Linked DNA regions of Homo sapiens: region 1 is linked to region 2. Evidence: fine-mapped expression QTL. A gene starts in region 2. The other region holds a variant in brackets. All regions are shown on one strand. Distances are from middle to middle.

Evidence for each region.
Region 1: its variant is fine-mapped to the expression of LINC02728 in sigmoid colon (GTEx, PIP above 0.99).

Annotation. Positions count from the first base shown.
Region 1 is chr11:78,641,358-78,650,418 of GRCh38, reverse strand. No RefSeq gene overlaps it. Among named protein-coding and RNA genes, the nearest start is that of NARS2, 71 kb to the right of the region's middle. The variant C/T (reference allele first, on the strand shown) is at 5,348.
Region 2 is chr11:78,425,038-78,434,098 of GRCh38, reverse strand. It overlaps LINC02728 (long intergenic non-protein coding RNA 2728), which reads left to right and starts at 4,263. Exons shown (of 4, transcript NR_120564.1): 1 at 4,263-4,399; 2 at 6,569-6,790; 3 at 8,694-8,762; 4 at 8,904-9,061. RefSeq lists an enhancer at 6,785-6,984 and a silencer at 7,390-7,555.

The sequences.
Region 1 (9,061 bases), 220 kb before region 2:
TTCGGATATTTATTATATGAGTGAGTAAATGGATGAGTAGAGAATGGATGACTGTATGAATAAACACCATAGCCAGGCCCTTGACAAGGCCTGGAGGAGGAATTACAATCAGTCAACAGCCATTTAATGAGCACTTCATATATACAAGATCCCAGCCTAAGCAGCCTCAGAAAACCTGAAGGTGTAAGACAGGACCCTTTGCTGATAAGCATCACCACTCAATCAGGGAGTCTAGAAAGATTCAGAAAACAGACTCTGTGATACTAAGGAGCATGTGCTCTCTGTCACTATTCCAGAAGCCTCGGCATCCAAGCTTGCTAGAACCCAGAAATCTCAGAGAGGTGGCCTGAGGCCCACCCAGTGGACTCAAGAGGCTCCATTAGCTTGAGCTCAGTCTGGCGTCTGAGACATTGCCAGTTTTACAGCAGCCAGGGCTCCAACACTACGGAGTGTGAGGGTGCAGACTGGATGGTACAGGAGCAGAATTCTGTTGGCAGCAGAATCCCATCAACACCCAAGAGTCTGGTCCAGACCCTGGAGGTGTCAGTCTAGGCAGAGGGGCTAGAGGAACAAGCAGGGCAAGGTGATAACGTGGCAGTGAGATGGACACAAGTGCCCTGGTGTCCACACTCGACTCACATGGGTTTGGTGGTGGGGAGAACCAAGCTCTGGGGGACACAATCTCATCACCTGCCCATAGCCATGATTCTGTGACAGCAGGACCAGCCCCAGCCCCCACGTCCTGCCCATGGCTAAGGTTCCTAATGTGCTCTATCAGCCTGTGATCTGGGCTAAAAACTCAGCGCCTCCAGCTGGCTTGGGGGTGGAGAGAGGGGGAGTACCCAAGTGCTAAGAAAGTAGCTCCAACAAAACCTGCTTTCCACGGTACCAAAGGAGAACTCAGGGAGGGCTGAGTGAAGAGAGGAAGGAACCCGAGAAAATTTCCTGGAAGAGGTGGATTTAGTGAGAAAAGATCAGGTGAGAGGAAAGTGTGTTTTTCATGTGGACCTGGGGGAGCCTGGGCCTCCGAGCCTCACTTCTGGAAACCAAGTCCAGTAAGCATGAAGCCAAAATTTCCTGGGGCTCCAATCCAGCATGTCTCCACTTTTTTCACACTGCAAAACCCACAATGGTTGATGTTTGATGTAGGACCCACTCCCATAGGTATGCCTAGATTTGCGATGACGTGGGTGGCGGTGATCTGCAAATCCCAGCACGCAGGAACACCTCTTCTTTTTCCCCCACTCATAAAGCATCTCAGAATGCAAGCAAGAAAGAGAAAGATCACGTTACAGGGACAATTCTGAAGGCATGCTAATTTATAGCAAAAATAATTTGCCAAGTAGTACTTTAGTATTCATAATGACTGACTCCTGGCCCATTGCTTCACTGTTTGTAGTAACACAAAGACCAGGAACAATTGCTACCTCCTTTTTTCTCCTCTTTCTGTTGTGGGTCAGGGAGTTCCCCATAAACAGATCCTGAGATAAGGATGTGTCTGAAAGTAGGTTACTAGGAAGTGGTCCCAGGGAAAATGGGTACACAAATAGAGATGAGGGAGAGGAAATAGGGAGGGCCGATCAAGGGTGTGAAAATCCAGCAAAGTTCCAAGAGAATAATTTTGGCTAAGTCCTGCAGGAGAGTTGTGGAAACATAACAAGTCACACCTGGGAGTTTTCCCCCTGGGGGCAGGCAGCTGGGCTTTTGACACCTCTGCACCTGCCAGTCATCAGTTAAGGGCTGCTCCTGGGACTGTCTTTACCCAGGCACTTCTGGCTCTCCGTGCACTCAGGCAAAATGAGCTCTGGCAGCCTGAGGACAGCCTGCCTACAAAGACTCCCAGGTGTTAGCTGCTGGGAATGAAAGCACACAGGCTTCATTCATTTCCATCCAAGAGGGTTGAAGGAGTCTCACAGCATCTACTGAAATCTCATATCCTACGCCGCAGTAGGCACCTAGTAAATGCTGGTTGCTTATTGGCTAGCAAAGGATGCATCCAAGAGAACAGGACACAATAATCACGTGCATTAAAGCTGACGCGGGGTGGGGGGACCCCACCTATTTGGTTTACCACCGTATCCCTGGTACCTGGCACAGGAACCTTGTACACAGGTTTGTTAGATAAATGATAAATGGATCTCCCCATGGTGATGTTGTTATCTGAGAGCTGCTCCAGGTCTCCCTAGTTCCCCCCATCAGTTCTTGCCTGACTCAGCTGATGCTGCCTGAGACCACAGAGCTCAGGAGGAGCTCACTGGGGCTTCATCACATGGTGACCCACCTCACTGAGCAAGTGCCACCCAACTGTTAGGCCCAACATCTGCCCTGTTCTCTCTAATCAGATGCTTTTGAGGACAAGCAGTGTGGCTCAGTAGACACGATAGGTGTGGGCTGCAGACCCAGTACTTCCTACATTTAATCTCATTTGAACCTACAACAAAATTCATGGTAGGTATTATTACCTTCCATTTTGCAGATGAGCTTTATAAGACCCAGAGATGGTTTGTGCTATTAAATGATAGAATCAGCATCAGTCCAGATTTACCTAACTCCAAGTTCTAGGCTATCGATCTTACATCTTAAAGCTCAGGAGTGAGGGAGTTTCTGATGTGACAGGCTTCATACATTGACATCTGAAGATGGACAACCACCTTTCCAGTGCCCAGAAAGTCACCCATCCACAGGCACAAGGCTCACCTGAGACTTCGCTCAACTCCAAATTTAGGGCTGGCTCCAAAGGCGTGCGACCTGTGTAGTCACACAGGGTCCTGCGCTTAGGGCCCACTCTTGGTTTAATGCTCTGCTGTTGCCATCTTGAAACACTTAATTTTTGAACAAGGTCCTGTGTTTTCACTTTGTACTGGGCTGTGCAAGTTATGGAGGCAGCCCTGTCCACACTGCTTACCCAGTGTGAACAAACTTTCAGCATTCTAGGACATTCTCAAGAACCTGAGGCAGAGGATGAGCCCTGGAGCCCCCCAAATGGGTGGGGAAGCTGTGGGCAGGAAAGCCCTTCCATACATGTTGGGTCAGGACTGGATAGAACCAGCCGAGACCTTCCCACCAGCTCCAAGCCAGGAAACCCCCACTCAGTGGTAAACATCTAAGTCCATTAAGTGGCAAAGACTTGGAGCACAGGTAAAGACTGTGGGGCACAAAGAAACTACAAACCTGTTCTGCCTAGGGGAGGATAAATCAGGAGAGGCTTCTAGAGGAAGGCAACCCCTTAACTGTTCAAAGAAAGAAATGAAGAAGAGCATTCCAGGTGGAGGGTGTCGTAGAGTTAAGGTACCAATGTGTCCTGCGGGTGGCTTGGCATATCGTGGGGGAGCCAGGGGAGGGGCCTTAAGAGTTAGGGCTGAACAGGTGGGCAGAGGCCAATCAGGTAGACTTGACTTTTCCTCCTCCTCCTCTGGTTTTCTTAAATATTCATGCACACACCATGCACATTCTCCTGGGTTAGTCTCCATTTCCACCCAAAATCTTGCCAGATGGCTGGGAAGCATTTATATGAGAAGCTTTATTTTCTCCAGCTAGGCGTTTATCTGCTCTTCCACTCTACTGTACAGGACAGGTGATGTATTAACACACCCCTGATTTCTTCACATTGATAACGCCACCTAGTGGCCACCTGTCACACTTTCCCATTCCTCCAAATTGATAGGCAGAAAAACATGGGTGAGATCAGGTAAGATCATGCTCATCCCTTGTCCTGCTCCTGTACTTCCTAGAGTTCAGACGACCTCCATAGGAGAACCCTTTCGACCTGTACAACAGTCCCAAGGTTCAGCAATGACTCTCAGATGATGCCCTAAAAGCACCTCACACTCTCACACCAGAAAGGAAAAGCAGGAAAATTAGCTCTAGCAGTCCCTACCTTCCCTCTGCTCCCTGGGCCAATGTGAAGAGGATCCTTCAGTTCTGAATGTGGTGCCCCCAGCACCATACAGACAACTACAGAGGCTGCTGCTGTGCCTGAGGTTGGAAAAAGGTGGACAAAACAGCACTCACGACTCATGGGGCTTGGAGAGATTTAACTTAGGCATCTTTAAACAATCAATGATGCTAACAGCAATAACAAGCAGAACAAGGAGGAGGAGAAGGAGCTATTTCTTGAGAGCCATTCCCTCTATCAGACAACCACACTAGGCCTTTTACACTTCTTCCTTGAATGCATTTTTGTAAGTTCATTAAATCTTTCCCACTGCAAGGAAAGCTTCAGATGGCAATTAACATGTACTGGGTGCCTACAATGTGTCAAGCAGTTTCCTAGGCACTTTGAATGCATTTGCTCATTTATTACTCACCACAGTACAACAAGAGAGGTACTGTTAGTATCCAATTTTCAGGCGGAGAGGCAGGCACTTGCCAAGGGCATGTGAGGTAGCAAGCAGATGGAACTGGGAGTTGAAGCTGAGCAACCTAGTTCCAGGCTTGCACGATTCATCACTACCCAGACTCCCTCCTAGGCTGAGACAAAAAGAAAATGTGTACACCCTGTCCTGGAATTTACTGGTCTACTTAGGAAGAGAGATATATAACTGAAGATCCATAAGGCATTCACTTATTTACTCATTCTGCAAACTTTCCCTCAAGGACATCTTACACCAGGTGTGGATGAGTGTGTAGGTGTTAATTCCCTCAGTCTGGTGGGAAGAGAAGCTAAGCCAGGTTGTACCTGCACACCAGTGATTCAGGATGAGGCAGCAGGCACTGGGACTCACGGGATGAGAAACAGAGTTTGGGGACAGCTGGCCAGGCAGTGCCCAAGCCCTGGTCTAATGGGGTCTGAAGAATACCTCTCTGCCCAGCAGATAAGGAATTCTCAGCAAACTGCTAGCCCTTATTATATCTAAAAAGCTCCACCGATTCTCTTCCTTTAGCTTTATCCCTCCTACCTAGGAAGAGAAGGTGAATACTGTCTGATGGGTGGTCAAGCAGGACCTAGCCTCTTGCAGCAAAAACAGAACTAGCTCTTCCTGGGTCCAAGGCTCCAGATAAACTGGCCTGAGCTGCCATCTACCGGCCAACTGTGCACACTGCAGCAGATACTGCCAAGGCCACCTTCTTGACCAGGTGCAGAGGGATGGAGGACTAAGGTGGCTGAATTCCTTAACTGTTAAGACAGGGGGAGGCTGTCATCTCCTAGTGTGTTACAAACAAAAGGAGACTGAGACTCTGAGAGGTGGCACAAGGTAGTAATCATTTCCATTGACCATTTGCCAGGCACTGTGAAAAGCACTTCACATTGCTCTTCTAATTGAATCTTAAGAATCTCGTGAGTACTATTACTTATCCCCCCTTTATGTGTTGTGTTTCTGAAGTCTCTCCATTCTATAATAGTTTT[C/T]CCTTCTTTTTAATGCTATTTATTTATTAAAGAAAAAGGTTATTTGTACTCCAGGATATCTCACAACCTGGATTTAGCGGCTAGTTCTTCATGGTGTCACTTTACTTGTTCTCAGGCCTCATAATTCCTAGAAGCTGGCATGTAGCACTAAAGGCTTAATTAAATTCAGGTTCAATTGTTTTAAGCAAGACTAACTCATAGGTACTTTCTATTACATCTAATGGGGGACACATAGTGTTTGATTATTCTACTTCTAGTGATAAGATTTGGTGACGTTAAATAAAAAAATGCTGACTTCTTAGTCTATTATTCCTTCATTAACTGGAACTCTTCTTTAAATAAGTAAAATATCCAAGTAAGTGGAGCAGTTAGAGAACCTGCACAGGCTGCATAGAGCAGCTATGTGGAGCCGAAAAGCAAATAGTGGCAGCCAGATTGGAGAAGAACAAAATTTGGAGGGCCACTGAACTGGCAGAATTCACCTCCCTTTTCCACTCTGGTATCCCCACGCCTTGACTCAGGTAGTTGAAAGTCCAGAGGTGCGCATCCAAAAGAAACCTCTATTTCACCTCGAGGAGTGGGAAGGGGCCCCCTGAGAGTGGCAGCATTAACAGCGGAGGCCCATAGACATGGGGGAAGCTTCTCTCTGATTGGAGGAGCGGGGGTGTCAAGAGTATGGGTGAACCTCCACTACATTTTCTCTCTGTCCTTTCACCAATTGGTCCTAGATGCAGGTGCAGTAGCTGCAGCAAGTGTGTGTCAGAGAGAGGCAAATAAAGCCTGAGATTTCTGGCTGGAAAACCTAAAATGTGGGCCTCAGGGCAATGAAAAATACCAAGGGAGATGGTGATGATGGAGAAGCTCAAGACAGTGGTAAAGTCGTTTGTGAATGCCCAGACTCATCCCTGAGCATCGCATGCATAGATCTGATCCTACGCAGTATGCCATAAACTTTGAGAACTGAACTCAGAAAAGAGTCCGTGGCTCTGGTCCCAGACTGCCCATTGGGTGGCACACATGCAGAACAGATTTGAATAGCCTGACAGTGTCTTGGAAAACCAAGCAGACATTGAAACCACAATCTATAGAAGGTTGGTCAAAACATGTTCTGAACCCAATCTAGTCAAATGCTTGCAAAAAAAAAAAAAAAAAAAAACTCTCCATAGAATTAAGATCCAGTGTTATAACATTTGAAGTAGTCAAGACACTTGGCCTATGAGGAAAATCTTAGCCAATACTGAGATGACACATATGTTGACCTTATCTATGAAAGACTAAAGCAGCAATATAAAAGTGCTCCAAAAGTGAGAAGGAACATACTTGAAACAAATGAAAGGTATGAAGTCTCAGAAAAGAAATAAAATATATAAAGAAAAACCAAATGAAAATCTGACAACTAAAAAAACACAATGACCAAAAGTTTAAACATTCACTGGATGGGCTCAATATGGCAGAATGGAGATGACAGAAAAAGAATGAATCAGCTTGAAGACAGACATTTTAAAATAGCCAATTTAAACAACACAGAGGAAAAAAGACTGGAAACAATGAATACAGCCTCAGGGATGTATGGGACCACATGAAAATGTCTAATTGTGCCATTTGAGTCAGAGAAAGAGAAGAGACAGTGCAGTGCAGAAAACATGCTTACAGAAATAAAAACTGAAAACTTTCCGAATTTGGAGAAAAACATAAACTTACAGATTCAGGAAGCCCCGGAAACTCCAAGCAAGACAAATTCAACGAAATTCATTCCTAGACATTATAACCAAACTACTGAAATTAAAAGCAAAAGAAAAAAAAAGAGAATGTCCGGAAAAAAATAACACATTACTTATACGGAAACAATGATTCAAGTGACTGTGAACTTTGCATCAAAACCCATGAAAGCCAGAAGACAGAACATTCTAAAGTGCTCAGAGAAAACAAATGTCAACTCAGAATTCTAAGTCCAGTGAAAATAACCTTTAGGAATGAAGGTAAAAGTAAGAATTCACAAATGAAGTAAAACTAAGAGAATTTTTCATCAGCAATCAGCTCTGCAACAACTGCTCAGGGAAGTTCTTCAGACAAAGGAAATGATAACTGGACAGAACTCTTGGAACATCAGGAGCTGGAAAAGAGCAACAAAAAATGATAATTGTGTAAACATGACAGATTATTCTTCTCTTAAGTACTTTAAAATATGTTTGATTGTTGAAAGTAAAAGAGTCTGAAAGTAAAAGAGTCTCAAAGGGTTTCAATACAGAGGAGGGAGGGTAAAAAGAACTACATAATAATCTTTCTACATTCCACTTGAAGTAGTGAATATTTCTTATTATTTCTGAGCAAAAAATTGAGAACATCTATTCCAATCTCGAGTAATGACTAAAAGACATATAGTAAAAACACAATAATTTAAATACAAGAAAAAAATGTTCAAAGAACCCAAAAGAAGACAGAAAATGAAAAACAAAGAAAAAGCAAATAACAAAATAGAAGGCCTAAATACAAAGATGTCAATAATTACAATAAATACAAATGATTTAAACACATCAACTAAAAGAGATATCAGGATAAAAATATATGACCCAACTATATGTTGTATTTTAAAAATCATCTTAAATATAAAGCTATGCATAAGTTAAAAGTAAAATGATGGCCTAGTACCGTGGCTCGCACCTGTAATTTCAGCACTTTGGGAGGCCAAGGCGAGCAGATCGCGAGGTCAGGAGATTGAGACCAGCCTGGCCAACATGGTGAAACCCCGTCTCTACTGAAAATACAAAAATTAGCCAGTCATGGTGGTGGGCACCTGTAATCCCAGCTACTCAGGAGTCTGAGGCAGGAAAATCGCTTGAACCTGGGAGACGGAGGTTGCACTGAGCCGAGATCATGCCACTACACTCCAGCCTGGGTGACAGAGCAAGACTCCATCTCAAAAAAAAAAGAAAAATGATAAAAATACTGTGAAAACATTAATCAAAAAGCCACAGTGATTATTAATATCAAACAAAGCAGACTTCAAAGCAAATTACCAGAGATAAATTATCACGATAAAAGGGTCAATTCACCAAGAAGATGCAACAAACTTAGATGTGCATGCATTTAACAACAGAGGTTCAAAATGCATGAAGCGAAAACTGACAGAACTGAAAGAAAAAATCAACAAATCCACAATTATAGTTGGAGAGTTCCACATGCCATTTTTAGTAATCAATAGAATTAATGGACAGAAAATCAGCAAGGATATAGAAGAACTGTACTAAACCATCAACCAACTAGATTTAATTAACACTTATATAATACTCTGCCCAACAACAGCCAAATGCACATTCTTTTCAAGTGCACGTGAAACATTCACCAGGATAAACCACATCCTGGGTCATAAAATAAGTTTTCACAATTTTAAGATAATTGAAAGAGTATGTTCTCAAATCAAGAATCTAAACTTTCTACCCTAAGAAACAAGAAAATAAGAGCAAAATTAACAGAAAGCAAGCAGAAAAAAAGGAAATAATAAAGAGCAGAAATCAAATAAACCAACAAAAATATTGAAACTTAGTTATTTAAAAAGATGAATAAAACTATAAAACTTCTAGTAAGACAAAAAAGGGAGAAGACACAAATTACCAATATTAGGAATAAACAGGCTATCACTACAAATCCAACAGAAATTAAAAGATAATTAGAGAATATGAATACATAATTTCTATACACAATACTACACATATA
Region 2 (9,061 bases):
TCTTAATCTTCTGTGAACCTGTGCTGAACTTAGTCACTAATAATTGATTTAGAGTCTAACCTTTAGGCAATATGTAGTCCCCTATTTTAGTACATATTAAGTCTCCAAAATGTATAACGAAGTCACATCGCTGAAAGTTGAACAGTAGTCTTAAATGTGTTCATATACTGTATATGTGGAAGGAGGAAAGGTCCTTCTCAAGGCATCTTGCCTTTTTGATAGTGTTTTCACCAATGTATTTCCAAAACTTTATACATTCTTTTCCTTGATAGTTGATCACACAATGAATATCTGGTTGAAGCCAAATACTTGCCACCTATAGCAAGCCTAATAATTTGTCTTTGGTGCAATACTTCTATTTTGCCAATAATTGAACAAAAACAAAAATTCAAGTCAGACAAAGATGATGAAAATGCCAAAACTGAACTGTTGCTTGCAGGCAGCATCAGCAGGAAAAAACTCAAAATGTTTACTCATCAGCTGAGATATGAATATCTAAATTCTACATTGCAAACAGTGTTGTATAAGTCAGTGTATAATGAATAAACGTATGGATTCAATAGTTGAGTACTGTCTACACCATAATAGCTTTTAGTGCTCAGTTTCTGAGTTAAAAGGTGATAAGAGGGTTAGTTTTTCACTTGAGCAACCCATTTCCAATGAGGAAAGAAATCAGATTATGTTTTCCTAAGATTTCCAAATGCCACCTGAAAATAAGAACCCCAGCAACCAAAGTAGAAGTATATTCTAAAACTTAGAAAGGTTTTTTCCATTATTCTCATTCTTATTTCAAATTTTGAGATAGGTTGAGAAAAATAGTTGCTTTCCATCTGGCTGTCCTTTTGCCTGGGGAAAGTTGTGCTGTCATGTTTTTAGGTCTGACAAGAACTTAATTGTGTGAGTGATCCATTCCAGATCTAGACATAACTCTCCAACCCAGAGACTCTTCAACTGTCACAGAATAGCAAAAGAACTATTTGACCTTTTGTTCTTGTCAGACTGGATCTGCCAGAAGCCTCCCTCTACAATGTTATATATTCATATTCTCTATAAATTGAATGTAGACATTGAAGCATGACTGAACAGGCATTGAAGATGTACTTGGTGAGGTGGATTAACTCTACCCATCTTTAAATCCGTTGCTTCAGATAATTATAGATGAGAGATGCTTATTTGGATTGGATTGCTATTTATTCTTATGTTTATTTTACTAAGTGGTGAGGCAAGAACACAAAAATGTACAGTTGAAAGACAGATTGGCCTGGGTTGATTGATAAGTAATGTGTGGGGTGTTTTGGCTTCTGATCAATATTTGTATTCAGTCTGCAATCTATGTATAATTAAAAAAACAGGTGAGAGTAACATCTGATTATAATTTCTCCCCAGTTAATCTTCAGAATTAAAAGATAGTAAAAGCGTTAAGAAAAGGGCAGAAAGCGGGCCGGGCACGGTGGCTCATACCTGTAACCCCAGCACTTTGGGAGGCCAAGACAGGCGGATCACCTGAGGTCAGGAGTTCGAGACCAGCCTGACTAACATGATGAAACCCATCTCTACTAAAAATACAAAAATTAGCTAGCTGTGGTGGTAGGCTCCTGTAATCCCAGCTCCTTGGGAGGCTGAGGCAGGAGAATTGCTGGAACTTGGGAGGCGGAGGTTTCAGTGAGCCGAGATGGTGCCATTGCACTCCAGCGGGGGGCAGCAGAGCAAGACTCCATCTCAAAAAAAAAAAAAAAGAAAAAGAAAAGGGCCCAAAGCAACCTTAATCACTGTATTGAAATGATTTAGTATGGCTTTTGTAAGAAAGTATTTTAAGTCATGGTCAGCATCCCTCCCTGAACTTGGACATTCTACTGTTGCCAGGAGCCCTAGATTGGCCTGTGATCAACTAAGGCTCCAGTTAGCTGTTGTGCAGTTTGGACCCAGCATTACCATAAATGGAGTCCAGCGAATTTCTAGCCATTATCAGCACACTGGATAGTTTCTGGGGGACCTTTATAAAGAAGACACCAGGAGTTTAGGTGGTTTTTAAACTGTCATTCAGGCAGCTGGTCATTGAATTAACATAGCTCATGACTTTTCAAAAATTTTCTGCTATACCTTTACTGTTCATAATTGTTACTAATAACATGACTATTATTTAGGCATTGCTTTACAGTTCACAAACATGTTTCATGTATCTTATTTTCTTAGTTATCAAGACAATACATTGTGGACTTTGTTCCTTTGTATCTTACTGGTCATGAAATTTATTTGGTTTATTTGTTATAAAAATTCAAAGTTCCTTTTGGGAGGCCAAGGCCGGCAGATCACAAGGTCAGGAGATTGAGACCATCCTGGCTAACACGGTGAAACCCTGTCTCTACAAAAAAAAAAAAAAAAAAAAAAAAAAAAAAATTAGCCGGGTGTGGTGGCAGGCGCCTGTAGTCCCAGCTTACTCAGGAGGCTGAGGCAGGAGAATGGCATGAACCCGGGAGGCGGAACTTGCAGTCAGCCGAGATCACACCACTGCACTCCAGCCTAGGCAAAAGAGCGAGACTCTGTCTCAAAAAAAAAAAAAAAAAAAATCGAAAGTTCCTAATACTGAGAGAAAGACTGCAAATAAAATTCACTGCCCTCAGCTTCCAGAGAAACCAAAAAACATAAAACCTAATAACCAAAGAATCTTGCATCTTAAGCCCCAGAGTTTACTGAATGTGTCGCAAAATACTCACCTTGACCTTGTTCTACCCAGGGTGAAGGGACAGGAGAATGTGAAGGAAGATGATGTTTGATCTCAAATACATTGGAGTAAAGAGAAACACTAAAAATGGGGTAAAGGATCCTAGACCCAGCAATGTACTTAAGCTCATTGTGCCTCAATTTGTTATCAGTTTATACTCACATTTGCCACCTTCCTTTTAGGATCATCTTTGAATTGTGGATAGAAAGATACATGAAAGAAACTTTGATAGGAATTATTAATATCTTCCTCGAAGTCACAGACCTTTGATTTTTCAAGGTAATAATCTGAAAATAGATACATGGTGAGCCTGTGTAACAAAGGTTTTTTTTCTGCAACAGGTGCCCATGTACACAGCTGGAACTGTATTTTGCCGAACCTGAGCCATCTACAACTGTGATTCTTTGATTCATAACTTTCTCTACACACTAGCTCAATAAGAATTGCTGGTTTGCCATTTTCCTAGGAACCTAGTTTTGAAAAATCTTGGAAAGAAGATAATTCTTCCCGTTTATGATATATGAACTACTCCCCTCTGTATTTCTCCTGATTCCTAGTAATTTACCTATTGTAGCTTCACTGAATAGGAACTCACTATCTTAATAGAGATCTTTTATTTATTTATTTATTTATTTATTTATTTAGAGACAGGGTCTTACTCTCTCACTCAGGCTAGAGTGCAGTGACGTGATCACAGCTCACTGCAGCCTCAGCCTCCCAGGCTCAAGTGATCCTTCTGCCTCAGCCTCCCACGTAGCTGGGACCACAGGCACAAGCCACCACACCCAGCTAATTTTTGTATTTTTTGTAGAGACAGGGTTTTGCCATGTTGCCCAGGCTGGTCTTGAACTCCTGGGCTCAAGCAGTCCTCCCACTTTGGCCTCTGAAAGGGCAGGGATTACAGGCATGAGCCACTGTGCCTAGCCTTATTTTTTGGAAACGGTCTTGCTTTGTCGCTCAGGCTTAAGTGCAGTGATGTGTACATGGCTCAATGCAGCCTCGACCTCCTGGGCCCAAGCAATCCTCAGCCTCCCATGTAGCTGGGATCACAGGTATGTGCCACCACATCTAGCTAATTTTTTATAGAGACAGGGTCTCACTTTGTTGCCCAGGCTGGTCTTAAACTCATGGGCTCAAGTAGTCCGCTTCCCTCAGCCTCCCAAAGTGCTGGGATTACAAGTTTGAGCCACCACACCCAGCCAAGAAGTTTTTCTCTCCTCAGAGAGCTCTGGTTGTTAGAAACTTCTACCTGAGAATAAGGAAACCTGTCTCTCTGTATCATGCAAATGGAATAAAATAGAAACACAACTCCTCCTGTTTTCCAGTATAGAACCTCTAACTGCTCAGGTGGACTGTCTGTCCTTCCCTGAAGTGCTGCACCCCTCTGTTATTCATCAGGTCGTGTGTCCTTATAATGGGCATTTCTATTGGTACATAAAAGCTTCCCTCTCCTGTTCACTCAGCTGCTACCCAAGTTTCCTGTGATACCAATCTTAGAAGAGCTTTCAAGTCTCCACTGCCTCCTTCCTATCTGCCTTACAGCCTGTGGTGGTTGCCGAAGAACTTTAATTACAGTGTCAGAGTGTTCAGGGACAGTCCCAACTCCCTTCATGTGAGGATTGCAGAAATGGGCTTGGATCGTATACAGACAGCGTTATGAGGCATTGCTGAAGAACAGTAAGTTCTTACACAGAAGTTGTCAACTAATATATGCATTTTCTTTGCCATACCCCAAGAGGCAGGAGCTGATTCCTATATAGTTAGGATATAGCTGACCAATGTTCTCTTTAAATGTAATTTCCATCTGCCACATTTTAAATTACAGGTTTTTGCATCAGGAAACTGTTGGGTCCAATTATTTGGTGCCTTGGAAAGGGCATTAAATGCATAGTGAGAAGATCCTGGTTTAATCTGACATTCCACTTACTAGGTGTAGAAGCTTGAGCAAGTTAATTAATCTTTGAGTCTGTATACCCAGCTGCAAAATGAGGATAATGCTTATCTTACAGAGTGTTGTGAAAGCAATGAAGATTGTGTGAAAGGGTTTCATAAACTGACAAGCACTGCACAAATGTAAGGTCCCCTAAGGAAAACCTTTTCAAAACTCAAAATCTATATGAACAGAGATACTTATTCATGTTGGGTGGAATGTTTTACAGCCATTAAAAATTGTAAGAGAAAATATATTGAAAAATACAATCTAAAATGGTGAGTTTGCAATTACAACAGTGTAAAACCTGTGTACATAGACTAGAATATGGAAAAAATGGATTACAGGGTAGTGGAATTGAGTGACTTTTGCTTTAAAGACTCTTAGGTATATTAGGTGTATTCAGTTTAGTTCAATAAACTTTTATTGAGCTCTCACTCTCCCAATCCCCGTGCTAGATTCTATGAGTGCTGAGACAAATAGGACATACTCCCTGCTCTCAGAGACTCCCATTCTGTACAGTCTTGTCAAAGTTTACTGTGTATGTGAATCACTGCGGAGCGTATTAAAAATTCACATTATCTTACTCCCACCAGAAGATCTGATTCAGTAGGTCTGTGATGGAACTAGCTCACAATTTACATTGTTTTAAACAGTCACCCTGAGTAATTCTAGTGTAAGTATTTTAATTCTGTACTGAGAAACCTGCAGTGAGATTTTAATATTTTTACACTAAACGGTAAGTAATAATTATACAAATCTGCTCATTGAAGAAGTTACCTGTTTTCTCTGCATGCTTGAGCTGGTTTTTATGTGTCTCTATCAAGGATGGGAAGGCCAGCCTGCAGTGATACCCCTTGGAACCCTTGCAGTGTAGAAACTACCACACCTCTCAACTTTTATCTCTTTTCCTCACTCCATTTCTCCCCACCACTTCTCCTAATGTTTTCTTCTTTCTATGCAAGTGTTAATCTCCCACTCTGGTTCCTTCTATGCCTAGTACTGTATCAACATCCAGGTGCTTCCCCTTCCTTTCTCCACCCCACCCCCCAGCCAGATATGTCAATTGTATTGAAAACAACTTACATCTAGTTTACTAAGTACAAACTTGTGCTGGTTAATGCTTCTCAAAAAGTAGGAGTGGGCTGTTTGTTGAGATCAACAATCATTTTTTTAAAAATCCGATATGGAAATTTTTGTGTCAAGTTTCACTGTCATTTAGTTCTTGACTGATTTTCTTCTGATGGGTTAGTAGCTCTCAACAGAAGATTTTAAAAGTCCCCTGCTCAGGTACCTGTCCTGCCGATAGAGCTGGGGTGTACCCTGCACCCTGACTCAACATTGCTTGTCTCCACATGCCTGTAAATGGGCTTGGGTGGCTTTCTCAGGCTACACACCTGTCACTTCTTAGTCACCCAGAATCAAAATATTAACAGCTCTGATCACATTTTCTGAACCTATGAGGCTTTATTTCAAGAGTGGTGACACTCCAAAATGCAGCTAGGATTTCCGCATTTTCACGTGTTAGTGTTGAAATCATTTTTACTTCAGGAAACCAAGGGTTGGACAATGGCTTCCAGACTTTCTCCTTTCGTTATGCTCCTTCAGCGCCTTATGCAAATACCGGTTGTCTTATGCTGCCATTCGTCTCCTCTGCCAGAATGTGAGGTCCGCGACAGCAGGGATAAGAATGCATTCATTTTTATATCTGCAGTGCCTTGGAGAGTGTCTGACACATAGTGGGCACTCATTTAGAAACCACCAATTGAATCATTAAGGTGACCAAAAACAGGGTGGGGGAAATACGTCCATCAGACAACAGGGAAATATTTCTTAAAAAAAAAATTTCCCAAAACTAGCTTTTCCCTCCTTATGTGTCTGAAATATCTCATAAAATTTTAAACTATCCCTTTCAGCACAAATCTGCCTGGAGCTGTTTCCTGAACACAGGACCAAAAGGCAGGAATCAAAAGTAGTAATGAGTTTAGTTATCTGTCTGTTACTGAAGGTGACTTCTAGGGCATCCTCCTGGCATTGCTTCTGGAATACAGTGACTTAGACTTATTCGGAAGAACATCTCTATGCTGTTCATCACATCGCCAGCACCTAGCCCTGTGCCTGTGCATAGTAAATGCTCAGTAAGTATTGTTGAATGATTGTATTAAATTGAGAAGAAATTCAGAAGCTAGTCCCAAATGAATTTAATTGCTCAGATTTTCAGTTAGTGGTTTTCCCCAACTTGCTCCCTTAATCTAGACAATTTTACTGCCTCCAAATTGAAGGTAGCTACTATTTATGTCATCGAATTTAACAAATGTTAACTTATGTCTATTCTGTGCCTATCTGTGGGCTACCCAAAATTAAACCTAACCTCATGTAGTTTCAGTCCCCATACAGTTGGTTCATAATTCTCAGTGCTCCCACAGTCCTTTGAACATACCTCTTATAACATTGCCCAAATACTACTGGAGATACCTGCCTATTTCTCTCCCCAGAAAGACCCTGAAATTCTGAAGAACCTAGTCTTATCTTGGTATTCCTATGCTGAACTTGAAGTAGTAGGTTCTCAGAAAATCCCTGCTGAGACTTGACTAACTTGTACATAAATAACCATTCCCTAGTAACATGTGTTTGAATAGAAATATATTTTGTATTTGAATAGAAAGAAACATATGGTTTTCTAAGTATATTCCTAATTTAAAGGGATACTAGGGGAAAGAAACAAGATTGGTTTTTGTGTCTCTATTAAACACCTTCCAAGGTGTCTTACTTAGTTATCAAACCTGTCCTTTTTCTGACAATTCCCCTACCCCTGTCCTGGCCAGTGGGTCCCTAGCAGACATCCTGGGGGCCAGAGCTTCCTTTGCTGATTGGTGTAGGGATGGACACCTGATCCCAAATAGACCAGTTTCACCTTCTCTTGGGAAATTGGGGTTGAGGACACTGGAGAGTCTGGACTGGTTGCTTGAGCCAGGAACACATAAACTTAGGAGCCAGTGGGTATAACCATGTACCCAGAGAGACAGAGAAAGCAGTCTTCAGAGAAAGAAACGAAGGCAAAATGTTCGGAGGTGAGGGAGACATGCAAAATGGATGCCTGGTTTTTGCCATGTTTATTCCCTGGTTGCTACTCTTTCTGAGGCCAGATTATTCAACTTTTCCATGGGTTCCACGGGAGATAACTCACTTACCATCTCCATTGGATCGTGAGTGAGTTTGAAATGAGTATCTGCTTTCACAACTAAAAGAAGTCAAATTAATATACTGTGTGACTTACAGAAGGAATTCTCATTACTTTTTAAGTCTCATTACCTTATAATCACATCTACATATCCCAGAATATATGTCAATCAGGAATTACTTAGATGGGAAATTCCTGATAAAATAAGATGCAGTAGGAGGGTAAGTGGCTTCTTTGCTTTTCAAATTTTTTAATAATCTAAGTCACAAAAACAGAAAGCAAATAAATGGAGGCTTATTTACAGAGGGGATTGGACACGTCAGACCTTTTTTGGAACCACACAATTGGATTTAAAAGATTTTGAAGAACCAACACATTTGGCAGCTTCCCAAACCATCTATTTTTGAAGATTCTGCTTTCCAGAACTGTATTAAGAATGGCCCTTGTCATGGGCGTTAGCTGTGTTTCAGGCTAGCCAAAACTAAAAACTGGAAGAGACTAAATAAGTATGTGTGCATGTAGAGCAGCCCAGACCCTGCAAGTGGACTGACCATAAACAATGATGGCCAAATCTATGAAAATAAGATAAAGACCTTGCTCTTCAGAAACAGTGCCAGATGTGTTCAGAGCTTTGTATACCACACTCTTTCAGCCCTGGTATGCCACACCGTGAATTTAGTGTTCACTTACAATAATCATTTTGAAAACATGCATGGAAAATACAGAGGAACTGTGAACTGCTAAAATCATTTGTCTGGTTCAGGAAAGTTTCAGAGGAAAATCTCGGGGCTTTTTCCTAGAATGTTATGAAAATATTAAATTATACTGATTGCTGCCAACATATTTTCTAACCATTCTAGGAAAAGAAAAAACAACAAAGTTTCCAGCTCTTACTCTAGATTGACACTGGACCTTGGAGATGCTTGCAGGTAATTTGACTGCACCTACTTTCCTTTTTTGGTTAATTGTGTTAAATGTGCCTCATAACTTACATTCCCGGTGAGGCTGTCATTTAGAAGGGGTGGGTGGGGGCTGAGGGGAAGCTGTTTTAATTCTGGCTTTTGTTTCAGCCACTAAATGTAATGCCACATGATTGTTGACCCAACAATAATCCAGTTAAAAAACAGTCTTCAGAGTTACTACATCATCAGAATTAACCCTGATTACATCAAATTATGTTGAAACAGACCACAGCTGTTTGCCCTGTTGAAGCAACTGCTTGAGAGCT